4 linked regions of the Homo sapiens genome follow. The protein of the gene in region 1 purifies or fractionates together with the protein of each later gene. This does not show direct contact. Each region holds a gene or a part of one and is shown on either strand. Other genes may lie near its edges. The genes, in order: MARK2, PPP2R5E, FUCA1 and CERT1.

Region 1 (7,030 bases):
GTGTGTTTTCCTTTTTGTGAATGGGGGTCTCACTGTATTGCCTTTTTAAATATATTCTTTTTTTTTTTTCCTTTTTGTGAACAGCAGGTCTTGAACTCTTGGGCTCAAGCTATCCTCCTGCCTCTGCCTCCCTAAGTGCTGCCTGTAAAGGCATGAGCCACTGTGCCTGGCTTGATGATGTTGATGATAATAATAAAGTTAATATGTGCTGAGTAGGTGACAGATTTAGGATTTGAAACCTGGCAGCTTATCTCCGACATCTACAGTCTTAACCAGAAAGGAAGAGAATGAATGGTACAATCTTGCTTGTGGTTGTTAAGCTCCTTGAGGCCCACTTGTGCAGCAGGGCCAGGCAGGGAATGCTGACCTGCTGTGCCACACAGACCAGCCCCTCGGTTCACCAAGAGGGATGGGCAGAGCAGAGCTCAGGATGGGCATGGGATGCCCAGATTTGGTCTCAGTTGGCAAAAGGCCCAAGTCTGCAGGTAGATGCTAAATCCCTGGTCTGGATTTTGAGAACTTAGAGACCGTCACACTTCCTGCTGCCTTGGGCTTATATCCTCGGAGAAACAGGGAGTGACAACAAACTTAGAAGGTGAACTAGAGGTTGCCAAGGAAACTTTCCCACCCATCTTCCTCTCGTAGGAGTTGGGGCAGAAGGAAGGTTTTTTCCTGTTCATTGCCCGTTAGGCAGATGGGTAGGGTTGGAGGCAGTCTAGCAGCACTGAAAGGGAGGATGGGGCTGAGAAAAAGGTAGCCTGAGGAGACCAGGCTTTCAGTACCCTGCTGGACAGGGCTAGGGTACCCTTCAGGAGGCTGGCCCAATCAGGTGCCAGCAGGGCCTAGAAATGCCCTTCTCTCCAAGGGGTGTGAACCCTAGAGTTCCTTTGGAAGGGAAAAAAGCAGGTATTTAAAAATCCACTTGTCTTGCAGACACTGTTTGAGGACCAACCAGGCTTAGGTGAGCTACAGGGTGCGTGGAGAACAGAGCACCAGAGAGCTCTGTGGGCTGGAATGAGCAGACAATAAGAGCTGGGGGGCTTCATGGAGATGCAAAGGTTGATGAGGAAGAGAGAAGGAAGTTAAAAGGGCCTCTTCTGGGATGTGAGGAGCCTCCCCCTTCAAACATCTACCAAATGCATGGGATCTTCCTCCTCCAAGGTCCAACCCCATGTGTTTCTGGGATCTGGTCAAACAGCTCACCAAAAGACAGCCTGCAGCTACCATGCAAAGGCCCTACGTGGGCACAGTGAAGAAGGGGAAATGTCAGAATCAGGATACTGTACTTAACTTGCTGCTGTCGTTTCTGCCTGAAAAGCATCTGGTTGAGCTAGCAAGCTTCTTGTCTAGGAATGCTGGACAGTTCCTTGGGTAGTAGCAAGTCATTCTTTTTTTCTCTGTGGTTTTTGAGTGCTTCACGTACAGCCAGCAGGGGCCATGAAAGGAAGAACTTTCACTCACACTCCTCTGGTCACCCTGCTGCCCTCCAGACTGTTTCCTTGAAGTTTCCAAGGCAGCTCTGGATGGTTCTGGGATGAGGCTCTGGCCTCATATGCTTTGTTGCAGTATGCTGGAGCGATCGCTCCAGATGTTCTTTGTGAGATGTAAACCAGGGCGCTAATCAGGAGTTAGACCAGACTCTGCATTTTTTTTTTTTTTTTTTGAGACAGGGTCTCGCTCTATCACCCAGGCTGGAGTACAATGGCATGATCATGGCTCACTGCAGCCTCGAACTCCTCCTGGGTTCAAGCGATCCTCCCGCCTCATCCTCCAGAGCAGCTGGGACTATAGGTGCATGCCACCACACCCAGTTGATTTCTTAATTTTTTTTTTTTTTTTTTTTTGAGACGGAGTTTCACTCTTGTTGCCCAGGCTGGAGTGCAGTGGTGCGATCTCAGCTCACTGTAACCTCCTCCTCCTGGGTTCAAGCAATTCTCCTGCCTCAGCCTCCCTAGTAGCTGGGATTACAGGCACCTGTAATCCACCATGCCCAGCTAATTTTTTGTATTTTTAGTAGAGACAAGGTTTTACTATGTTGGCCAGGCTGGTCTCGAACTCCTGACCTCAAGCAATCCACCTGCCTCAACCTCCCAAGATTTCTTAATTTCTTAATTTTTTGTAGAGACAGAGTCTCCCTATGTTGCCCAGGCTCGTCTCAAGCTCCTGGCCTCAAGTGATCCTCCTGCCTCAGCCTCCTAAAGTGCTGGGATTTAGGCATGAGCTACCTTGCCTGGCCTAGACTCTGAACAGTTTTAGTGAGATACCATAAGTTTATCCAAGTTTCTTCTGTGTTGTAGCATATATTCTTTTTTACTGCCAACCAATATTCCCCGGTAAGGATATGCTACGTTTGTCTATCCGTTCATCCAGCTGATGGGCATTTGAATTGTTTCCACTTTTTGACTATTATGGATTATGGTGCTGTGAACCTTGGTTACAGGTTTTTTGTGGATTTCTGTTTTCATTTCTCTTTTGTATATACTGAGGAGCGGAATTGCTGGCTCATATAGTCTGTGTTTAGCACTTTGAGGAATGTACACGTCTTCACATAGATGTATGTTTTTTGTCTAGACCATACCCTTTTTGTACAGGTTGAACATCCGTAATCCAAAAGCCAAAATGCTCCAAAATCTAAACTTTTTGAGTGCCAGCATGATGCCACAAGTGGAAAATTCTACACGTAACCCCATATGACAGGTTATAAGCAAAATTCAATCACTTTATTTCATGCACAAAATTATTTTAAAATGTCATGAAATTACCTTCAGGCCATGTATATAATGTACACATGAAAAATAAATGTTTAGACTTGGGTCCCATCCCTGAGATATCTGATTATGTATATGCAAATATTCCAAAATCCAAAACAATTTAAAATCTGCCACGTTTCTGGTCCTAAGCATTTTGGATAAAGGATATTCAACCCGTATTATGTTTATATGCCTCTTCAGTGCTGGTAGTTGTAGCTTCTGCTTCCTCATCCCCTCATTTGAGCCGGGTGGCAGAGCAGGGCAGACTGCTGCCTTGCTCAGACCTAATCGTTCAGTTCTTTCATTGTACAAGTATTCATTGAGCAGCAAACATAAGCCAGTCTCTCTAAGTGCTGGGATGTATCAGTGAATAAAGAATATATGCCTGCTTTCATGTGCTTCCATTTTTACTGGGGGAGATGGCAAATAAATGTAAAGTGATAAATAACAAAGGTTCAGTGGGGCATTCGTAGTTCAGCGGCAGAAATTTCGTCTCCTACGCGGGAGACTCGGGTTCGACTTCGGCCATGCAGTCCTTCCATGCAGGAAGGGCTACTACGTTTCTACCCAACAAAGTTATTATGGCTGGGCGCAGTGGCTCACGCCTGTAATTCCAGCACTTTGGGAGGCCAAGGCGGGCGGATCACCTGAGATCAGGAGTTTGAGACCAGCCTGACCAACATGGAGAAACCCTATCTCTATTGAAAATACAAAATTAGCCAGGCGTGGTGGCGCATGACTGTAATCCCAGCTACTCGGGAGGCTGAGGTGGGAGAATTGCTTGAACCCGGGAGGTGGAGGTTGCGGTGAGCTGAGATCGCACCATTGCACTCCAGCCTGGGCAACAAGAGTAAAGCTCTGTCTCAAAAAAATAAATAAATAAAAAATAAAGGTTCATGTAAGTTTTGGGTGGCGATGAGGGCGTTGAAGCAGTTATGACCATGTAGCTACCATGACTTTGAGATGCAGTCTTCTCGCAGTGTGCACAGGCAGCATGGAGGGAGGCAGGGTACCGGCTCTCCCTCCTGAACCAGACGAGCTGTTGTGTTGCCAATGGAGGTTCAGGGAGCCAGTGATGGGACAGCTCTGCTCCTGAGCTTTGCCACCCACAGGACCTGGGCACTGGACCTTATGATGTGCTTCTCTGGAGTGAAGACTGGCTGTCACCTCAGCCCCCTCTCCTTTCTTCTGCTGCCATATCATTCTTCACATGCCTACCAGCCCCCTGGAATCTGCCCCTGCACCCTCATCCCTTATATATTTTGCAGAGAGCGTTTAGAGGACTGGAAGTGTGGCATGTAATGGTATCTCTGTTTCCACCCCGCAGCCCACCTTGGGACACCTTGACTCCAAGCCCAGCAGTAAGTCCAACATGATTCGGGGCCGCAACTCAGCCACCTCTGCTGATGAGCAGCCCCACATTGGAAACTACCGGCTCCTCAAGACCATTGGCAAGGGTAATTTTGCCAAGGTGAAGTTGGCCCGACACATCCTGACTGGGAAAGAGGTGAGCACTGGGACTGGGGACATGGCAGCACCTCCCAGCCCTGTTGACACTCCAGCAGGTGGTGATGGGACTACTACTGCAGCCAACCTCTTGTTTATCCGGCAGAAATGAGATCTGAGATATAGGGGTGCAAAAAGCTGTGGGATGAAAAGGAGTAAGAAATATAAAGGAGGAAGTAGATTGGAATCCTGGGTTTCGCTGGTCAGAGAAGTGATTTGGGGCCTTTTTGTCTCATCCTCAGGTAGCTGTGAAGATCATTGACAAGACTCAACTGAACTCCTCCAGCCTCCAGAAAGTAAGCACATGGCACCTCCTGTCCCTTTTTTTTTTTTTTTTTTTTTTTTTTTTGAGTCAGAGCCTCACTCTTGTCGCCCAGGCTGGAGTGCAATGGTGTGATCTCGGCTCACTGCAACCTCCGCCTTTTGGTTTCAAGCGATTCTCCCGCCTCAGCCTCCCGAGTAGCTGGGATTATAGGCACCCGCCACCACACCTGGCTAAGTTTTGTATTTTTAGTAGAGATGGGGTTTCACCATGGTAGCCAGGCTGGTCTCGAACTCCTGACCTCAAGTGATCCGCTCGCCTCGGCCTCCCAAAGTGCTAGGATTATAGGCGTGAACCACTGCCCCCAGCCCACCTGTCCCTTTCTAAATCTCTCTTCTGGGGTCAATGATCTACTGACCCCATTTAGACCTTCTCTTGAATTCCTAGTTTAAATTTTCTGGCCATTTCGCTCACCGTCCCCCAACCATTCCCTCCCATGGCTCTGCTACCTTCGGGGCTTTGGTTGGATCATCTGTGGTGACTCCTCCTGAGTGGGCTTCCTGGCCATAGGCACTGGCTCTTGTGAAGTCTTTCTGTTCATTCCCAGCCACTTGGCCTACCTGTCTGACCTACTTCCTGCATCTTGTTATCTTCTGGCTTGTGGCCAGCCCTATGCAAAAACACATGTTTGTAGCCACTACTAGAAACACGTGCAGCTACTTCAAGATCTGGAATGATACAGGGGAGTGGCTTTAGAAATACAAGAATAAGAGGAAGCAGGGAACCTGCCGGTGGGTTCTGTGCCAGCTACCTTTTAGAGAATGAGCTCCAGCTCAAATTTTCTGAACAAAACCTAGTTCTGTTCATCTTGTGGCAAATCAGATATTTTCTCCATAAGCATATTGTGGCAGTTGAGTTAGGAGAAGGCATGATTCGTGCTAACAGAGTCAGATAGTGATACTGGGAACCTTAGGAGTAAGGGCTGAGGATTGTTGTTGAGGGCGATGCTCATGGAATTAGAGTGGATGAGTTGTTCTCCGGACATGCAAATAGCCAGAACCAAGGTGTTTCCTATTTATTGTTACCCCTGGGATCCCTTCAAGGGTTCTTCAGTTCAGTAGAAACATTGTTGTCATCATCAGGGTGTCTCTGCTTGAAGCTTTCCAGGAGGAAGGGAAAAAGGGCTGCTTATGACATCCTGGCTCCAGCCCCACAGAAGAAGTCAGCGTGGGGTAGGCCATTTGGCCTTGGGAGCAGTCTAGCCTGCCATCGTAATAATCGCCAGTCCACCAAGCCATCTTATTCCTGACCTTGTTTTTCTCCCTAATTCTTCTTGGTTTTCTCCCTAATTCTTCCTGACTCTCTGGAAGGCACCAACACCAGACAAATAGAGCCATTTTCAAAACCTTTTGAGACTCTTTGTTACTAAAGCCAGTCTGATTCTGGCCAAAAATGTGATCTCAGCAATGATCCCTGAAAAATGAACATTGAAGAAGCTAGCCCCCTCAGGGGTCTAGACAAGCCCAGAAAACCCCAAGTTCTCCCAGAAGAATGTCACTTCCATGCCAGGTGAGCAGCCTCAGGGGAAGAAGCCCTGGCAGCTGCCTCTGGCCCTATTTCAGAGCTGCTCCCCATTACTGCCCCAGAGGGTGGTATCCAGGCTTTTTGCCTCTCCATCCAAAATATCTGTTGGACCAGGGAAAAAAGTAAGAAAAACCTAGGCCCTAATAAAGGGTAAGGTCAGCATTGGGTTCCTGAGGATTGGAAAGCCTTTTTCTTCTTTTCCTTTCTAGCTTAGGAAAGCTCTGGGGCATCATTAAAGGGGAAACAAATGTATTCACTTTATTCCATAAACCATATCTTGAATTAGGGCTTCCCCTACCCCCAACAAAAACAACAACAAAAACTAGTTCTGTTCTTTGTGCAAGTGATGAGGCCTGAAATTACAAAAAGCCCCACCTCCAGTTCTCTGGCCCCCGCAGAGGGGAAGGAGTTCATTTCTGTCATCTTTCTTTATGGAAATACATGGTTTGGAGCCCCTGGTTTTGTTTCACAAAGAGAGCGTGAGTGTGTGGAGGTGGATTTGATTAAAATTGGCATCAGCTATATATAGGAGTGGCTTCTTCTGTCACCACCCTAGAGGCCCAGGAAGGAAAGGCCTATCCCCTAGAACAGAGCCCTCTGACTACTGTAAATCAGAAAATGATGGGGTCCCCCTCTGGTGCTCTACCACCCCTTTACACAGACCAAGCTGGGGTGTGTACTGTCACTGAACCAAGGCAGCAGCTCGGATTCTGAATATTCACGCACACGGGCTCACACTCCCTCCAGTAGAGGCACCCAGCCAAAACCTGCCTGCTGTTTTGGGGCTGGATTTGGTAGACGCAGCAGAGGGCATGGCTGGCTCATCCTGATGCCATCCCGGGTAGCACGTCCCCACAGCCAGCCCTCCTCCAGCTTCCCCAACTTCCCAGCCACAGGGAAGGCCGTGCATGAGCTAGACAACCACCCT
Region 2 (7,238 bases), on another chromosome or scaffold:
CCCTCACTGTTCTTTCCTCTCAGTCCACGACCAGCTTCATGTACCCCGCCACTCCACACACACCAAACTAGTCTACCTCTGATCATGATATCTAATCAGCATAGGTCTTTTCCTCCTCTACTGGTTGACAATTGTTCTGACGATGCTTCTACTTATTATTTTAGTTCTCCTTTAGTTCCCCAGCCAGCCATCATTTGATAGTCAATGTCTTGGTCTTATCACGTGGCTAGCTCACTAGTAGATTCATGATAAGCTCAGCTTTGATATCTGGGAAGTGAATGCTTTCATGTGAGAGCAATAGACTACATTTTGTCACTTGATAATGGCCTCTCAGATGGCTATAATGTTTTTCTTTTCATTTTTTTTTGTTTTTTGAGATGGAGTCTTGCTGTGTCACCCAGGCTGGAGTGCAGTGTTGGGATCTTGGCTCACTGCAACCTCCGCCTCCTGGGTTCAAGCAATTCTCCTGCCTCAGCCTCCTGAGTAGCTAGGATTATAGACAGCTGCTACCAAACCCAGCTAATTTTTGTATTTTAATAGAGACGGGGTTTCACCATATTGGCCAGGCTGGTCTCGAACTCCTGACCTTGTGATCCACCTGCCTCGGCCTCTCAAAAGTGCTGGGATTACAGGCGTGAGCCACTGTGCCCGGCCTAGAATGTTTTTATTCACAGGCTACATCATGTCACACTACAGAATCCAACTCCTGGGCTCAAGTGATGCTCCGACCTCAGCCTGTGGAGTAGTTGGGACTGCAGGCCTGTGACATTGTGCCTGGCTTCCAAACTTCTTTTTTTTGAGACAGGTTTTCACTTTCTCTCCCAGGCTGGAATGCAGTGGCATGATCATAGCTCACTGCAGCATTGACCACCTGGGCTCAGGTGATCTTCCCACCTCAGCCTCCCAGTAGCTGGGACAACAGGAGCGTGCCACCAGGCCTGGCTGATTTTGAAATTTTTTTCGTAGATAAGGGGTTTCACGATGTTGCCCAGTCTGGTTTCAAACACCTGGGCTAAAGTGATCCACCCTCCTCAGCCTCCCAAAGTGCTAGGATTACAGGCATTAGCTGTGACATCCAGCCAAAAAAATTCTTCCAAATATATGTGTATTTGTCCATAAAGTATAGACATACGCTACCATCATTAGCTTAACTCAATCAACATATACACTTAGAATGAAGTTCAATTCTTAATAACAGTGGATGTAGGCTGGGTGCAGTGGCTCACGCCTGTAATCCCAGCACTTTGGGGGGTCGAGTGGGGTGGATCATTTGAGGTCAGGAGTTCGAGACCAGCCTGGCCAACATGGTGAAACCCCGTCTCTACTTAAAATACAAAAATTAGCCAGGTGTACATGCCTGTAATCCCAGCTACTTGGGAGGCTGAGGCAGAAGGATTGCTTGAACCCGGGAGGTGAAGGTTGCAGTGAGTCGTTTGCGCCACTGTACTCCAGCCTGGGCGACAAAGCGAGACTCCATCTCAAACAACAACAACAACAACAACAACAACAACAACAACAACAACAACAACAACAGTGGATGTAAATTTACATTTCAAGTAGCCTTGATTTTTTTTCTAGTCAAAATTTGATTGAATTTATTAGATTGGTATTTTACTTTTGAAAAGTGGCTGTCAAAGATTTGATACTGGGCTGGGTGTGGTGGCTCATGCCTGTAATCCCAGCACTTTGGGAGACCGAGGCGGGTGGATCACAAGGTCAGGAGTTTGAGAACAGCCTGGCCAACATGGTGAAACCCCGTCTCTACTAAAAATACCAAAAAAAAAAAAAAAAAAAGAAAAAAAAGATTTGATACTGAAGAGTCAGTTCTAACATTTTCTTCTTGTTCTCCCGTGGTTTATTTGCAAAGGACTCATAGAGTCATTTGTCTGTTTTATGAGGGTTAGTTTAATTAAACTTAGATAATATAATCAGTAAGTCCACTTAGTTGAATCCAGAAACTGCAATAAGAAACCGCAATAAGTCATATGTTGTCAGGGGCTGATTGGGTGGGCCCACCACTGCCAACCCCTAGGAATGGGTAACTCCCACTTTTCCCTGAGGACATCTCCTATGCTGTTCTAGGCCAAGGCACCATTCCATGGACTGAGGGCAGAGCCATTCACTCTATATAAAATAGTAGTTGACCGTAATGCCTTTTAGATTAAAATTAAATGTAAATATATTTCCTAATACTTTCTTTTACTGCATCCGAAATAGATTGTCTTGCACTATTCTTGGAGTACCGAAATCCCTGGGATACATGGGAGAAATTACTGGTCCAGAGAACAATTTCTCACATAGGCAAGGATGTTTCCATTTTAAAAAACCTGCTCATTTCAGTTGCTCAGCCATTTTATAGAAAGTGAAATGACTTTGAAATGAATTGTCTTTATAGAGATCCATAATTTGCAAGCAAAATCCCCACTCTATGACATGTTCTAAGCAACAGCTGTGAGAATTTCAAACGTGCACTATGCTTTTAACAGTTCAACTGTTGCCAAGGGAAATTGAATTGGCTTCAAAATCTTCCTTGGTTTTAATTCTGAATTTACCCTCAATCAAAGATTGAAGAAAACAGGTCCTTGGCTGGGACACTGAACTTTCATGAAGACTGTACAGGATATTGAGATATGGAAAATTTAAGGTTCTTGAGGGTAGGAACTAGACTGCTGGTATTCTATAGTTCATACTTAGTGGTGATGAACTTTATCACGGCAAAAGTGGGCACTAGCCATACAGTGGCCAATCATCTGGAGTCAGTAGGGGGAGACTGCTTCCATCTAAGAGTCATCTTTTCGTTTTCCATTTCAGTTCAAAGCAGGAATATTTTTATCTTTCATGGCACAAAATTATTTTTCCACTCAAGAGCCATTTCTGGGAGTGTGCAAAGAAAATTTCAAAACTCTAGTGTTTAACAACACAAACAGGAGAAATGCAAATGCATTTTTCGTTGTCACTTGTACATATGGTACATATAGTTTTATTTATATATAGCTCTATTCCCTAACCGTATCGAAAAGATGATATAATGCTGAGGGAAAAAACTAGGCTACAGATCGACACACATTATTAACATAAAGAGAAAAAATACTAAAAGGAAGTATGCAAATACTGTAAGTGGTTATCTCTGAGTTGAGAAAATAAGAATGTTAATTTTTTTGTCCCCCCCCCCAATTTCTAAGTTTTGAACAACTGGTACTCTGACGTTTGTAGTTAGCATTAATAATTTCTTTCTTCCTTTTTTCCTCTCAAAAAATGTACGTAGGGTGCATTCAAATACATTAATCCAAGAATATTATCTGGAAATGTACCATTTGGCCGTCTGCATTCACCAAGCATGCAAACACATCTCCAAATATCTCATCACTTGTTCTAGATAGATTTAAGTAGTCTTCTCCATTAACTCTTTCGGGTCCAACTTGCCAATTAAAATCTCGAAACTCCTAGTTTGGAGCTGGGTCTTTCCGAGCTCTGAGCAGTCGGCTGACTGGCGGGTTATTCTGAATGAATAGACTGCAAACTGTGGCGACAGCGTTCCCACCTGCATTAATTAAACGAGCGCTGGCTTCAACGCTACAGGGGTCTGATATTCAAAACAGACGTTTAAGGAAAAGGAGATGAGGTGAGAGAAAATTCGAAGAAGGTTCAGCGGAGAGCGACTGCTGGGGGTTTCAAGGGGCCCATTTACACAAGCAGTGGCACACCGGCACGGGCGGGGGATCTTATTCCTGCCTACGCATCACAGGGTCCCGTCCAGAGTGGGACTCCCCAAACCCTGAGGGGCCACACTAGCTGCAGGGCGGGATCAAGTCTCCGGGGCTCCCCGACCCTTAGACGACCCGAGCCCTTGGAATCCTCCGGTCCAAGACGACCGCCGCCCAAAGGCTCCGCACAGCACGGAAAGCCAGCCCGCTGATCCGCTAGTCGCACACCTCCCGGAATTAAAGAGCTCCTCTCAGGCCCAGCGGCTTCTCACTTCAGCTTGCCCCACTGCCGGGCGGAAGCGGCGGCTGCACCGCCCGAGATCGCGGCTGCATCCGGGTTCCTCAAGCTTCGGCCCAATCCTCGACCTTCTCTCTTCCCACCCTCCCGTTTCTCCGCCCTCCTGCCGCCAATCCCTGATCAGGTCTCAGCCGAACATGCTGTCAGGGGAGTGAAGGCGGATACTGGCCAATGAGGCCTCGCTTCCCGTTTGAAGTCTCCAGTGGGCGGGCGCCGGAGGCGGGCGCTGCTGGCCAGAAGGTTCGGTTGCGCGTGTGCCATGGACTCAGCCGCCCGGTGATATTGACAATAGGAGAGAGAAAGGGGCATTGACTGGGACCCACCGCGGGTAGCGAAAGGTGGCTCTGGCAGCGGCGGCTCCAGCTCCTGCGGCTCCTCCTCCTTATTCTGTCCCCTTCTCTTGCTGCCGCTGCAGATCCAGTCTTCCTCCCTCCCTTCCCCCCCTCCCCACGTCGTCGCCGCCGCCGCCGGGTCCGGGGCAACGAGCTGAGGCGCCGCCCGCCAGGAATGTGAGCGAGGAGCCACCGGCGGAGCCGCAACGGGGTCGGTGCCGATTTGATGGGACGGGCCCGCGGGGGAGGATCGTGAGGCCGCCGCCGCCACCGGAACGCTGAGGTTCGGGTCCGGCCGTGAGGCCTAGAGGCTCCGCCGCCGCGGAACCGGAGGGACCCCGTACCGGACAGCCGTCGCCCCAGGCTCCCCGCAGCTGCCCGGACCTCCCCCTGCACGTCCCGGTCCCGCCGCCCGCCCCCGCTGCGGCCACCTCGCCCGTCTCCCGCCCCTCCAAGCCACAGATCATCTTTGGATTCTTCCCCAGAAGCTTCAAGGTAACTTAGTCCCTCCAGCACCGCGGCTCGCCCGCTTCCCTTCTTCCTCCCGGTCCTCCTGGGGAACCTATGGGGCACCGGCCTTGGGAAGGCCTGGCCGGGCAGGCGAGGGGTGCGGTGGGGTGGGGTGCGGGAGCGGGAGCGCCCGTCCCACTTGTCTGATTTACCTACAAATGCTTCTGATGATACCTCTCATTCACTCTGCCCCCTCCCCCCTTTTTCTCCACCTTCTGGGATTGGAGGCGTTTTCTTGCCCCCCTTTATCCACTGGCGGGGGCGGGGAATAAAGAGGGGTTTGGTGTGAGGAGGATTCTCTAGCAGCTTATCGTCTCCAGGGCTTGGGGTGTGGGTTAGGAGCAAAGGGAGTATGTAAGCATCCCCACAGACAAACCCCTTCCCTGTCTTTCCCTACTTCCCCTTACCCCCTTTGGATTATCCTGAGCCATGGAAATGCCCCATGCCTGCTGATTAGAGGATGATAAAGCTTCGGGAGCCCTGGCCCAGGGCGAAACCTGTTTCCCTGGGCTTTGCACGGACCCGCTGTTACCTTACGTTCAGTTTTGCAGTGCTTCAGGGTTGCGATCCTTGACGTTTATTCTGGGCCTCGGGCATAAGGGGTAAATGATTTTTTTAAAAGCTACCTATATATCGTCTGTAGAGATGAGAGATAAGGAATAAAGAAGAGACGAAAAGAGTGATGGAGGAAGAGGATTTACTGAAATGTTGTAGTGTTAGAGTTAGAGTGAAGTCTAAATAATTCACATACCCGAATGGAAAATCGGCCCCTAAATTTACAACGTACAAATAAGATGTGGAGCTTTTGGCTGATGCAGTCATTTTGATATTTTAAAGTGATCTTAACATCTATAGTCATTCATAGTTTGTGATTCTATTTTGAATCCATCACATTATATTAAGGCTAAATTAGGTAGATTTTTAAAAACTTTTTTTTTTTTAAAGAAAACCAAAGAAGACTTCCAAATTCCAAACGTCAACATCATATGTGTGCATGTGTTTTAAAATGTTTTTGTTATTTTTACATTGTCAAAATCCACGTAATCCAGGTAACTTTTTATTCTCACGTGTTCAGGAAGAAATTCCCTTACTGTTTTATTTAGAAGTTAAAAACCACTTGTCTTGTCTATTGGAATGACAGGTGAGTAATTGCATTTCAGCATTTCCCCCATATGCATTCTTTCTATCCGAGTCTGCCATTAGTCTTGCATGAAGCCTCAGTGCCATGGAAATGATGGCATCTGTTTAATTTGGTGAATGAAATTAAGCTTAACGCTTGTTACTTTCAGGAAATAGCCTTCATTTTAATAACTCGAGAGGGTTAAACAATTCAAAAGTGCTATTCAGTTCCGTAAGTTTGATGGAATGAAAATTGGTATTTGATGATGAACTTCAAGGTCTAAACCTCAAGGGAACTCAACTTGGTTGTTTCAGTAGGCTGTGAATTTATGTTTTCAGTTCAACTTTGGTGCTTGATTTTCTCATAGTTTTTATTAAGCGTTAATAACGTAAGGTGGCTTCATTCAAAAAGAAGACTTATTTGAAATATTTTAATTATGCCTTTTATGTGTTTTGTTTAAAGTAATCTAGCCTGTCCTCATTTGCAGTGTGGTATAGTTTATCATAGCTAACATAGCACATCCCATTAAAAGTTATGCCTAGATAGTTTCAGTAGTAGTAAATTTCACCTTGCTGTGATACATTGGTATAGATTCTTGAAGTACACTAAGGGTTTTTCAACTCCAGAACCCATTCATAATATTAAGTATCTTGGGAAAATGTATCAATGGAAGTTTTCCAGTTACAGAATAGCTCCAAAAATTACTTGAAGATGTGAAGAGCTTTGCAGTTAGAAAATGGGCAGGCAGCATAGATTTCTTTAAGCCTAGATGAGTATCTTTAATGCTTATAATGGAGTGGCACAATACATTAGAGTTCTCATATTGTTTCCGTGATACTTAAATTATTTTCACTAAATTTTCATGTTTTCCTGTTAACATATGACTTTTCTTTTCTTTGTTTGTTTCTTTTTTTTTTTTTTGAGAAGGAGTTTTCCTCTTGCTGCCCAGGCTGGAGTGCAATGGCATGATCTTGGCTCACCACAACTCCGCCTCCCGGGTTCAAGTGATTCTCCTGCCTCAGCCTCCCGAGTAGCTGGGATTACAGGCATGCGCCACCATGCCTGGCTAATTTTTGTATTTTTTTTTTTTTATTAGAGATGGGGTTTCTCCATGTTGGTCAGGCTGGTCTCGAACTCCCAACCTGAAGTTATCTGCCCGCCTTGGGATTACGGGTGTGTGCCACTGTGCCTGGCTTTTTTTTTTTTTTTTTTTGAGATGGACTCTTGCTCTGTTGCCCAGGCTGGAGTGCAGTGGTGCCATCTTGGCTCACCGC
Region 3 (7,030 bases), on another chromosome or scaffold:
GAGATCGAGACCATCCTGGCTAACACAGTGAAACCCCATCTCTACTAAAAATACAAAAAGAAATTAGCCAGGCGTGGTAGTGGGTGCCTGTAGTCCCAGCTGCTCAGGAGGCTGAGGCAGGAGAATGGTGTGAACCTGGAAGGCAGAGCTTTCAGTGAGCCGAGATCGCGCCACTGCACTCCAGCCTGGGCGACAGAGTGAGACTCCTTCTCAAAAAAAAAGTCTAAGGGTCTCATTGGGTCTCTATTACTAAGCTCAGAAAATGGGAAGAAAGAAAAAAACAGATTCTATATGATGCACAGAGACAGATTAAGAGTGGTTTTCTAAGGCCGGGCGTGGTGGCTCACGCCTGTAATCCCAGCACTTTGGGAGGCCGAGGCTGGTGGATCACGAGGTCAGGAGTTCAGGACCAGCCTGGCTAACACGGTGAAACCCCGTCTCTACTGAAAATACAAAAATTAGGCCGGGCCTAATTTTTACATGCCTGTAGTCCCAGCTACTTGGGAGGCTGAGGCAGGAGAATGGCGTGAACCCGGGAGGCGGAGCTTGCAGTGAGCCAAGATGGCGCCACTGCACTCCAGCCTGGGCAACAGAGCGAGACTCTGTCTCAAAAAAAAAGAAAATACAAAAATTAGTCGGGCGTGGTGGTGGGCACCTCTAATCCCAGCTACTCGAGAGGCTGAGGCAGAGAATTGCTTAAACCCGGGAGGCGGAGGTTGCAGTGAGCAGAGATCGTGCCACTGTACTCCAGCCTGCGCAACAGAGCGAGACTCTGTCTCACAAAAAAAAAAAAGAGTGGTTTTCTGGAACTTGATGAATGTTTGTGACCTCCCAGATGTGCAGTTCATCCCTAGGTAATGAACTCTGATGTGATGTCATATCGTAATTGTCTGCATATCTGTCTCTGCTAGTCTCTGCTGGATCGTTGAGGGCAAGAACTCTGTTTTATTCACCTTGGAAACTCAGTGTCTGCCACAGTGTGAGCCTCATGGTAGTTGCTGAATAAATAGGAAAAGTAGGTGGGTGTTGAACCAAGAATTCAGATTGTTAATACCCCATTTGTCTCTGAAATGGCGTCTATGTATATATGTTCAGGGTGTATACCCCTCGAGCTAGGTCGCTTGCTACGTGAGGTTACAGTCTAGTGTTTGTGCTTAAGGAGTATCACAGAAGGAAAAATGACTAGCCAAAGATGCAGGATTGGGAAAGGGAAGAAAATATCAACCCCAGTGTCATTTAAAAAGCATGACTAGCTAGACAGCCTGAACTTTTTTGGCTTTTTTTTTTCTTTTCTTTTTTTTTTGAGAGGGAGTCTCGCACTGTCGCCCAGGCTGGAGTACAATGGCACGATCTCGGCTCACTGCAACCTCCGCCTCCTGGGTTCACACAATTCTCCTGCCTCAGCCTCCCGAGTAGCTGGGAGTACAGGCGCACACCATCACACCTGGCTAATTTTTTGTATTTTTAGTAGAGACGGGGTTTCACCATGTTGGCCAGACTGGTCTTGAAACTCTTGACCTTGTGATCCACCCGCCTCAGCCTCCCAAAGTGCTGGGATTACAGGCGTGAGCCACCGCTCCCGGCCGGCCTCTCTTAAACAATAATTCCTAAGCAACCAGGACCTTCTGTGTGGGTGTGCCTCAACCCATCTTCACAGTAGCTTCGCAGACATATGGGGACTGTAGATTCTCCTTCATTTCTACCAGGATTTATTGAGAGCCGGTGCCGTAGCATGCCGCATGCTAAGCCTTGGAAATGCTGAATGAATGGTTTCTGCTCTTAGGGAACTACAGTCTGAAGAGAAAGACAGACATACAAACAAAGTACATTGTAGGGTGACCAGTATGATAGTAGAAGTATGTCCTGAGGTCTCCACAATCCATAGACACTGGTTCGAATGCCAAAGTGGAGGGTACTGCATTAGCTTCTGTGGGATGAAGGAGTGCATGGTTGTGTCTGTCCTTGACAGGCTGAGTGTACAGGGAGCGTTCACATCACCTGAGGACTCTGAGAAAGAGGAGGTGTGGCAAGGAGACACCTTTATTCACTCTGAGCCAGAGTCTGGGCACACTGTCACTTTTATCCCTCCCTCTCAAACCCCTGTGAGGTGGGTGATATTTGCCTTTGGATTTTGTTTGTTTGGTTGGTTTTGTTTGTTTGTTTTTATAGATAAGTAACTAACTTAAAAGGTAAAGTTACCTGCCTAAGACCCCTTGACTACTAGGTGGTGGAGCCAGCTATGAACCTCAAAGCCCTTGATAATCTTGTAACCAGGCATAAACTCTGATATGATGTCATATTGTAATTGTCCACATATCTGTCTCCTCTGCTAGTCTCTGCTGGATGGTTGAGGGCAAGACCTCTGTTTTATTCACCTTGGAGACCCAGTATCTGCCCACAGTGTGAGCCCCATGGTAGTTGTTGAGTAAATACTTATTGAATAAGCGGATGGGTAGGTGTTGAATGAAGAATTAGGATTGTTAATACCCCATTTTTCTCTGAAATGGCTTTTACATACCTGTTCTTGAATTGATCTTGAGTTGTCCTTTTCAATTCTGTGACCCATGATGCCCAGACATTGATAATCAAGTACCAGACATTGGATTGAACTAGTTACAAATAATGACTATTCTTCTATTTCTCTTTGGCACTTAACTAGCTTCCATAGGAGAAACTTCATACCAATGTGAATGACTCTAAAACAGGCAAGAAATGGGAATTTTAAACTTTTAATAAATCTCTTTTTGCCGTGATGAATTGAACATGGTTTCAGTTTTGTTTTTGTTTTTGTTTTTGAGACGGAGTCTCGCTCTGCTGTTGCCTAGGCTGGAGTGCAGTGGCACGATCTCGGCTCACTGCTACCTCCGCCTCCCAGGTTCAAGCGATTCTCCTGCCTCAGCCTCCCAAATAGCTGGGACTACAGGCATGTGCCACCATGCCCAGCTAATTTTTTGTATTTTTGGTAGAGACGGGATTTCACCGTGTTAGCCAGGTTGGTCTCTATCTCCTGACCTCATGATCTGCCTGCCTTGGCCTCCCAAATGGTTTCAGTTTTTATCTTGTATTGGCCACTCTGTTATAAAATATGCTGCATTTAACATTTACATTAAGATATTCCATGTATGATTTATCATTCTTCAGCTAAACCTTGAAGTAAGAAAAAGAATTTGCTATTTTTTTTTTTTTTGAGTGGGATTGTCTTAAGACTTTTTTTTTACGTAAGTAAGGCTGGGATTATATAGTTGGAAAACAGCCTGCCATGGGTTCAGATACCTGATTTGTAGTTCCAGCTTTTGAAACTGCCTAGGGGCATGGCCCCAGGCAGGTCCTCTCCTGTTCATTTCTCCTCTTATAGAAAAAGTGATTTACCAGATGATCTTTAAAGCAAGCTCTCCCAGCCCTGACATGTATCTCTGCAGCAGGGTTTCTCTACCTCAGTACTGTTGACATTTAGGGCTGAATATTTCTTTGCTGTGGGGGCTGTCCTGTGCATTGTAGGACGTTTAGTAACATCCCTGGTCTCTACCCACTAGATGGCATACCACCCCCGTTGTGACAATCAAAAATGTCTCTAGACTTTACCAAATGTCCCCTCCAGAGCAAAATTGCCCCCAGTTGACAGCCACTGCTCTAGACTAAGTTTCTTGCTTCCAAATAGAGCCTTACCAAAGTGTATTACATAAAGAAGTCAAGTGGTTTTACTCCTCATGACCAAATATTCTTTCCCTCCTTAGGATGAGGTGGTAGTAAATGACCGATGGGGTCAGAACTGTTCCTGTCACCATGGAGGATACTATAACTGTGAAGATAAATTCAAGCCACAGAGCTTGCCAGATCACAAGTGGGAGATGTGCACCAGCATTGACAAGTTTTCCTGGGGCTATCGTCGTGACATGGCATTGTCTGATGTTACAGAAGAATCTGAAATCATTTCGGTAAGAGCACCTTTGAGTTTTTTGTTTTTGTTTTTTTTTTTTTAACATGCAGTATGATTTATTTTATATAATGTTCAAAAGCTTGCAAAAACAGCATATTGTTTACAGATGCATATTTTGGAGGTAAAATTATGAAGAAAAGCGAGATCATTATAAACAAAATTTAGGAGGGGGCTGGGATGGAGAAGGGCATGCAAAAGGGCTTTAACGGTGTTGGTTGTAATCTATATCTTAAAGTGGGTGTGGGTAGTAGGGTGTCCAGTTTTTTATTTATTTATTTATTTATTTATTTATTCTTTATTGATCATTCTTGGGTGTTTCTCACAGAGGGGGATTTGGCAGGGTCATAGGACAATAGTGGAGGGAGGGTCAGCAGATAAACAAGTGAACAAAGGTCTCTGGTTTTCCTATGCAGAGGACCCTGCGGCCTTCCGCAGTGTTTGTGTCCCTGGGTACTTGAGATTAGGGAGTGGTGATGACTCTTAACGAGCATGCTGCCTTCAAGCATCTGTTTAACAAAGCACATCTTGCACCGCCCTTAATCCATTTAACCCTGAGTGGACACAGCACACGTTTCAGAGAGCACAGGGTTGTGGGTAGGGTCACCGATCAACAGGATCACAAGGCAGAAGAATTTTTCTTAGTACAGAACAAAATGAAAAGTCTCCCGTGTCTACCTCTTTCTACACAGACACGGCAACCATCCGATTTCTCAATCCTTTCCCCGCCTTTCCCCCCTTTCTATTCCACAAAACCGCCATTGTCATCATGGCCCGTTCTCAATGAGCTGTTCGGTACACCTCCCAGACGGGGTGGTGGCTGGGCAGAGGGGCTCCTCACTTCCCAGTAGGGGCGGCCGGGCAGAGGCGCCCCTCACCTCCCGGACCGGGCGGCTGGCTGGGCGGGGGGCTGACCCCCCCACCTCCCTCCCGGACGGGGCGGCTGGCCAGGCGGGGGGCTGACCCCCCCACCTCCCTCCCGGACGGGGCGGCTGGCCGGGCGGGGGCTGACCCCCACCTCCCTCCCGGATGGGGTGGCTGCCGGGCAGAGACGCTCCTCACTTACCAGACGGGGTGGCTGCCGGGCGGAGAGGCTCCTCACTTCTCATATGGGGCGGTTGCCAGGCGGAGGGTTTCCTCACTTCTCAGATGGGGCGGCTGGGCAGAGACGCTCCTCACCTCCCAGACGGGGTCGCGGCCGGGCAGAGGCGCTCCTCACATCCCAGACGGGGCGGCGGGGCAGAGGCGCTCCCCACATCTCAGACGATGGGCGGCCGGGCAGAGACGCTCCTCACTTCCTAGATGGGATGGCGGCCGGGAAGAGGTGCTCCTCACTTCCTAGATGGGATGGCGGCCGGGCAGAGACGCTCCTCATTTTCCAGACTGGGTAGCCAGGCAGAGGGGCTCCTCACGTCCCAGACGATGGGCGGCCAGGCAGAGACGCTCCTCACTTCCCAGACGGGGTGGCGGCCGGGCAGAGGCTGCAATCTCGGCACTTTGGGAGGCCAAGGCAGGCGGCTGGGAGGTGGAGGTTGTAGCGAGCGGAGATCACGCCACTGCACTCCAGCCTGGGCACCATTGAGCACTGAGTGAACCAGACTCCATCTGCAATCCCGGCACCTCTGGAGGCCGAGGCTGGCGGATCACTCGCAGTTAGGAGCTGGAGACCAGCCCGGCCAACACAGCGAAACCCCGTCTCCACCAAAAAAATACGAAAACCAGTCAGGCGTGGTGGCGCGCACCTGCAATCGCAGGCACTCGGCAGGCTGAGGCAGGAGAATCAGGCAGGGAGGCTGCAGTGACCCGAGGTGGCAGCAGTACAGTCCAGCTTCGGCTCGGCATCAGTGGGAGACCGTGGAAAGAGAGGGAGAGGGAGACCGTGGGGAGAGGGAGAGGGGGGAGAGGGAGAGGGAGAGGGGAGTTTTTTGTTTTTTTTAATGAAATGGGGTCTTGCTCTGTCATGCAGGCAATAGCGCAGTGGCACGATCATACCTCACTGTAACCTCAAACTCCTGGGGCTCAAGTGGTCCTCCCACCTCAGCCTCCTGAGTAGCTAGAACTACAGGTGTGCACCTCTACAACCAGCTAATTTTTAAATTTTTTGTAGAGACAGGGTCTTGCTATGTTGCCCAGGCTGGTCTCAAACTCCTGGCCTCAAGAGATCTAGCCTCAGCCTCCCAAAGCACTGGATTACAGGCATGAGCCATGGCAGCTGGCCTGAGTTCACTATTTTTTAACTATGGATCTCAAACCACTTTTTATTATTATTATTATTATTATTACCTTCTAACATACTATATGATTGATTTTAATTATTTTTTTCCTCTTTTTTTAAATTTTACTTTAAATTCTGGGATACAAGTGCAGAGTGTGCAGGTTTGTTTCATAGGTATACATGTGCCATGATGGTTTGTTGCAAACTATCAACCCGATATCTAGGTTTTAAGCCCCACATGCATTAGGTATTTGTCCTAATGCTCTCCCTCCCCTCACCCCCACATTCCAACAAGCCCTGGTGTGTGATGTTCCTCTTCCTGTGTCCCATGTGTTCTCATTGTTCAACTCCCACTTATGAGTGAGAACATGTGGTGTTTGGTTTTCTGTTCCTGTGTTAGTTTGCTAAGAATGATGGTTTCCAGCTTCATCCATGTCCCTGCAAAGGACATGAACTCATTCTTTTTTATGGCTGCAAAACCAGCTTTTTTATGTAAGAGTGATGTCCAGCTTCATCCATGTCCCTGCAAAGGACACATTCTCTTTTATGGCTGCAAAACCAGCTTTTTTATGTAAGAGTGATGGAAGTACTCTGGATAGAAGTGCAGGTCAATAGAACCCTTTTAAGGACATTGAATAGACTAACAGAAACCTGTCCTAAGGAAATAATTAGAGTTACACAAGAAAGTTGTGCAGAGGTCCTTCCCAGGATTATTTGTATGTATGTATGTATGTATGTATGTATGTATGTATGTATGTATGTGTATATTTATTTATTTATTTATGAACGAACTTCACTCTGTCACCCAGGCTAGAGTGCAGTGGTGCGATCTCGGTCTGCTGCAACCGCCGTCTCCCGGGTTCAAGCAATTCTCCTGCCTC
Region 4 (5,385 bases), on another chromosome or scaffold:
TAGGTAGTCCCATTTATTGAAGACCTAGGCTCCATGTCATTCCCATAGTATATGTTTCCCCTTGCATACCTTAATATTGAAATATTTAATCTAAGTGACTTAGAATTCTTTCTAATGTGATTTGATTCAAATAAGTCTTTTTTCATTAAATCTTTGAATCTAAGTAGAACATAATCATGGAGTATGAGGAGAGAGGAATGGAAAGTTGTTGCTTACTGGGTACAGAGTTTCTGTTTGGGATGATGATAAATTTCAGAGATAGCAATATGGTTACATAACACTGTGAATGTAATTAATGTCCCTGAATTGTACCCTAAAAGTTAGTTAAAATGACAAATTATACGTGTATATATTTTACTGCAATTAAAAAAATAGAACATTATTCCTTTTATTATATTGTTCTGCAAAGCTATTAACTCTGTTCATAATTAATCATTTGGTAGATATCCTCAGATGCTTTCCATTTAAAATTTGAGAGATTTTACCTTCAATTAAGACATTTATTGGCATTACGTTTCTCTTGTTAGTTCCATGTTAGATCTGTTTTTCAAAAGATTTTTACTTCTCCACAGAGGGTGTGGCCTGCTTCTCAGCGAGACGTATTATATCTTTCTGTCATTCGAAAGATACCAGCCTTGACTGAAAATGACCCTGAAACTTGGATAGTTTGTAATTTTTCTGTGGATCATGACAGTGCTCCTGTAAGTACATGTATATAAATGTGTATAATTAAACAATATAAAGCTAAATACACAATGCGGGACAAAAATGATAAACACAGCCCATACACTATACTTGATTTGATAATGGTTCTTAGATTTTATGTTGGATTGACTGCTAGGAACAGTATAGCCCATGTGTTGTCTGAGGGCAACAGTCATGCCTATGAACATTCCACCAGGGCCGTTTACCTTTCCTTCTAATGTTTCGTGAAACAGCCAAAAGGGCAGTACATACACTGGGCAGTAGGCTACTTCCCACAGTTATCTCTTAAGCCGTTATCAACTGCCAGCCAAACCTCTGTGGTTTACCACAATTTAGCTCCATTTACTACTTAAGAGGAAGGGATCCTGGGCAACATGGTTAGACCCCATCTCTATTAAAAAAAATTTTTTTTTTTTTTTTAATTAGCCAGGCCTGGTGATGTGCACCTGTGGTCCCAGCTACTCTGGAGGTTGAGGCGGGAGGATTGCTTTGAGCCCAGGAGTTTGAAGCTGCAGTGAACTATGATGGCACCACTGCACTCCAGAGTGGGCAACAGAGCAAGACCTTGTCCCCAGAAAAAGTGGGTGGGGAGGAATCCTGGTGTCATATCAGCTTGGTGCTTATAAGATTTCACTGGAGATACTTTTAAGAGTTACGATTTTGGTTAACCTAATATAATATTAGACCAGCAGAGTTTACAAAATACTGGGTATCTACTGATGCTTTGTTTTTTGTTTTGGCAGCTAAACAACCGATGTGTCCGTGCCAAAATAAATGTTGCTATGATTTGTCAAACCTTGGTAAGCCCACCAGAGGGAAACCAGGAAATTAGCAGGGACAACATTCTATGCAAGATTACATATGTAGCTAATGGTATGTATTTTATTGTTTTTGCTCTTTGATAATGTGGCTGTTCTTGATCATGACCTATATGACAACAATTTGGACAAATGCCTTTTTAGTTCTTATCCATTAGATTACTAATTTTTAATTTGGAGAAAGGTATATCAGAATTACTAGAGAATCTTTGAAAGTACAGATGTCTGAATTTCACCCTGGAACTACTACTATATGAGTATTTCTGAAGCTAGAGCTGGATAGGAAAATTTTAAAACTTTATCCCTAGGTCACTGTATATACCCTTCTTTTTTTTTTTTTTTTTTTTTTGAGATGGAGTCTCGTTCTGTTGCCCAGGCTGGAGTGCAGTGGTGCAGTCTCAGCTCACTGCAGCCTCCGCCTCCTGGGTTCAAGCGATTCTCTGCCTCTGTAGCTGGGATTACAGGTGCCCACAACCACGCCTGGCTAGTTTTTTGTATTTTTAGTAGAGACGGGGTTTCACCATCTTGGCCAGGCTGGTCTTGAACTCCTGACCTCGTGATCCACCCACCTCGGCCTCCCAAAGTGCTGGGATTACAGGCGTGAGCCACTGCGCTCGACCTAGCCTTCATATTAAGCACCATTTTCTTAGATATTTGCCTCATAGAACAGATTTATTATTAGGAATATAAGCAACAGTGGGGAAGGAAATTAAGAGTTCTTTTACTCATTGTCAGCCTTTTTAGCTTTCTGAATCAATGTTCCCCTAGTCCTTATTAGTTGCTAGTTACATATTTATTTCTCTTTGACATTCATTGTCAGGCTTTTTGTTTTCTGAGTCAGCGTTTCCCTAGTCCTTATTAGTTGCTAGTTACATATATTTGTTTCACTTTGGATAGGTCTTTTCATTGCTTGCTTTGGGTCCTTACTTCACCTGCTTTGCACCTGGAGTAATCATTGCAACCTCTCTCATCAAAAGTCATACCTTCTTTATACAGGGCCATAACTGCTAGTATGTTCAAAGAAACAGTTGTACCTGAGTAAGTTACTATTTCATTATAGTACAGATTTGTGAATAATCTGCCCTAAATAACCTTAAGTGGTGCTATACTAATTTTTGCAGGTAATTTCGGGAACTAAGAACATTGTAGAAAGGTTATAGATGCTTTCTTATTTGCTGTCTGATTATGTCTGATGGATAGTGTTAAGGAATGAAGGGTTGGGACTTAAAAGATCATAATTGGTCCAGCTGGGTACAGTGACTCAGCCTGTAATCCCAGCACCTTGGGAGGCTGAGGCGGGCGGATCATGAGGTCAAGAGTTCGAGACCATCCTAGCCAACATGGTGAAAACCCATCTCTACTAAAAATACAAAATTAGCTGGGCATGGTGGCGTGCACCTGTAATCCCAGCTACTCCGGAGGCTGAGGCAGGAGAATCACTTGAACCCCGGAGGCGGAAGTTGCAGTGAGCCAAGATCGCGCCACTGCACTGCACCCTGGCAACAGAGCAAGACTCCGTCTCAAAAAGAAAAAAAAAAGATGCTAATTGGTCCAATGTGAGGAATATTTTAAAAACAAGGGAACAAATTAAGTGCTTCACATATGTTTGGAGAATTGTATCTTAATACATTTTAATTTTCCTTTATCTTGCAGTGAACCCTGGAGGATGGGCACCAGCCTCAGTGTTAAGGGCAGTGGCAAAGCGAGAGTATCCTAAATTTCTAAAACGTTTTACTTCTTACGTCCAAGAAAAAACTGCAGGAAAGCCTATTTTGTTCTAGTATTAACAGGTACTAGAAGATATGTTTTATCTTTTTTTAACTTTATTTGACTAATATGACTGTCAATACTAAAATTTAGTTGTTGAAAGTATTTACTATGTTTTTTGATGTTCCCCTATAGAGTATTGTTTCGTTGGTTTTTGTTGTTGTCGTTGTTGTTGTTTTAAACAGGGTCTTGCTCTGTTTCCTAAGCTGAAGTGCAATGACACCATCACGGCTCACTGCAACCTCAACCTCTGGCCTCAAACAATCCTCTCATCTCAGCCTTCCCAGTAGCTGGGAGTCCCCACAGGCATGTGCCACCATGCTCAGCTAATTTTTTATTTTTTGTAGAGATAGGGGTCTTGCTATGTTACCCAAGCTGGTCTTGAACTCCTGGCCTCAGACAATCCTCCTGCCTCAGCCTCCCAAAGTGCTGGGATTACAGACATGAGCCACCGTGCCTGGCCTTGAAAATTGTAGTTTATAGCCTTTAAAACTTAATTCTTTTATTGTTTCCTTTTTCTTCTAATGCTTATGTAAAGAAATTTTGATATTATAGAACTGTAGAATTGTAGAAGTGCAAACTTCCTGTATTCTTTCCTTTCCCAGAAACTGTTATTTTTGTTGTATATTCCTCCAGATTTTTCTGTGTATGTACTGACATATTTTTGAATGTTAAAATGTTTATACTTACTATTATACAAAATTCTTGTTTTATAACCTTTTTTTCACTTAACAATGTATCTTGACTATCTTTCTTTATAAGACATGAGATGTGTAAAACATCTCATTCTTTTAACATCTGTTACATGCATGTTGCAGAATTTATTAACTAGTCCCATGTTAATGTCTGAGTTGGTTCCATATTTTTACTGTCAACCAGTACAGCACTGAACACCTTTATGCAAAGAGGTAGAATCTTTAACTTTATTTTGGTGTTGTTGAGACAAAGTTTCTCTCTTGCTGCCCAGGCTGGAGTGCAGTGGTGCAATCTTGGCTCACTGCAACCTCTGCCTCCCAGGTTCAAGCGATTCTCCTGCCTCAGCCTCCCGAGTAGCTGGGATTACAGGCGTCCATCACCACGCCCAGCCTATTTTTGTATTTTTAGTAGAGGCAGGGTTTCACCATGTTGGCCAGGCTGGTCTCGAACTCCTTACCTCAGGTGACCTGCTCTCCTGGGCCTCCCAAAATGCTGGGTTTACAGGCGTGAGCCACTGCACTCAGCCCAAAATCTTTAACTTTTTAAAGTAAGTGATACGTTAACATGATTAAAAGCCAAAAGTGGCCAGGTGCAGTGGGTCACACCTGTAATCCCAACACTTTTTGGGAGACTGAGGTGGGAGAATGGCTTGAGGCCAGGAGTTCAAGTCTAGCCTGGATAACATAGCAAGATTCCATCTTGACAAAAAACAATTAGGCGTGGTGGTATACATGTATAGTCCTAGGTACTTGGGAGGCTGAAGCAGGAAGATCGCTTTGTCTGGGAGTTTGAGGCTGCAGTGAGCTGTGATTACACGACTGCACTCCAGCCTGGACAGGTAATGTCTGTCAAAAAATAAATAAATAAAGTCAAAAGTATGAAAAAGTTATACAGTAAAATTTACCCTGTCTTGCATTCACCATATAGTATTAACATATGCTATTACTAGTTTCTTCTAGAAAGTTTTTAATGCTTGAATGAACAAATACAAGTGTATTTTCTACACAGATACACTTTTTTTGTTGTTAAAGAAGCAGCAGCATACTATAAACACTGTTCAACATCTTATATTTGCATTTATTTTATCTTGAAGGTCTCACATATTTGTAAGGAGCTTCCTCATTTTGATGGTTATACAGTATCCCATTGTATAGATGTACATAATTTATTTAATCAGTTCTGCATTGGCGAATATTACAGTTTCCAATTTCTGCCAGAGCAGTGTCATAATTGTATCCATATGTCATTTTGTACTTGCAAGTTTATATGTGGGAAAATTAATAGATGTGGTACTACTGGCCCTGCTAGGGGTTTGTGCATAATTTAGATACTACTTTTCATAGAGGTTATAGTAATTGACCATCTCAACAGCAATAATGAATTGGAGTCCCTGTGTCCC

What was found.
Region 2: the proteins of MARK2 (region 1) and PPP2R5E purify together in Homo sapiens (affinity purification with mass spectrometry; 2 studies listed by BioGRID and IntAct, with this or other methods). This does not show direct contact.
Region 3: the proteins of MARK2 (region 1) and FUCA1 purify together in Homo sapiens (affinity purification with mass spectrometry; 4 studies listed by BioGRID and IntAct, with this or other methods). This does not show direct contact.
Region 4: the proteins of MARK2 (region 1) and CERT1 purify together in Homo sapiens (affinity purification with mass spectrometry; 3 studies listed by BioGRID and IntAct, with this or other methods). This does not show direct contact.

The regions. Positions count from the first base shown.
Region 1 is NC_000011.10:63,891,082-63,898,111, forward strand, and holds part of MARK2 (serine/threonine-protein kinase MARK2), read left to right. Parts: intron 1-4,077; coding exon 4,078-4,257; intron 4,258-4,498; coding exon 4,499-4,552; intron 4,553-7,030. UniProt on the Homo sapiens protein: Serine/threonine-protein kinase. Involved in cell polarity and microtubule dynamics regulation. Phosphorylates CRTC2/TORC2, DCX, HDAC7, KIF13B, MAP2, MAP4 and RAB11FIP2. Phosphorylates the microtubule-associated protein MAPT/TAU.
Region 2 is NC_000014.9:63,540,370-63,547,607, reverse strand, and holds the start of PPP2R5E (serine/threonine-protein phosphatase 2A 56 kDa regulatory subunit epsilon isoform), read left to right. Parts: upstream 1-4,230; 5' UTR 4,231-4,829; intron 4,830-7,238. UniProt on the Homo sapiens protein: The B regulatory subunit might modulate substrate selectivity and catalytic activity, and might also direct the localization of the catalytic enzyme to a particular subcellular compartment.
Region 3 is NC_000001.11:23,851,265-23,858,294, reverse strand, and holds part of FUCA1 (tissue alpha-L-fucosidase precursor), read left to right. Parts: intron 1-3,734; coding exon 3,735-3,935; intron 3,936-7,030. UniProt on the Homo sapiens protein: Alpha-L-fucosidase is responsible for hydrolyzing the alpha-1,6-linked fucose joined to the reducing-end N-acetylglucosamine of the carbohydrate moieties of glycoproteins.
Region 4 is NC_000005.10:75,377,265-75,382,649, reverse strand, and holds the end of CERT1 (ceramide transfer protein), read left to right. Parts: intron 1-572; coding exon 573-701; intron 702-1,448; coding exon 1,449-1,578; intron 1,579-3,176; coding exon 3,177-3,304; 3' UTR 3,305-4,875; downstream 4,876-5,385. UniProt on the Homo sapiens protein: Shelters ceramides and diacylglycerol lipids inside its START domain and mediates the intracellular trafficking of ceramides and diacylglycerol lipids in a non-vesicular manner.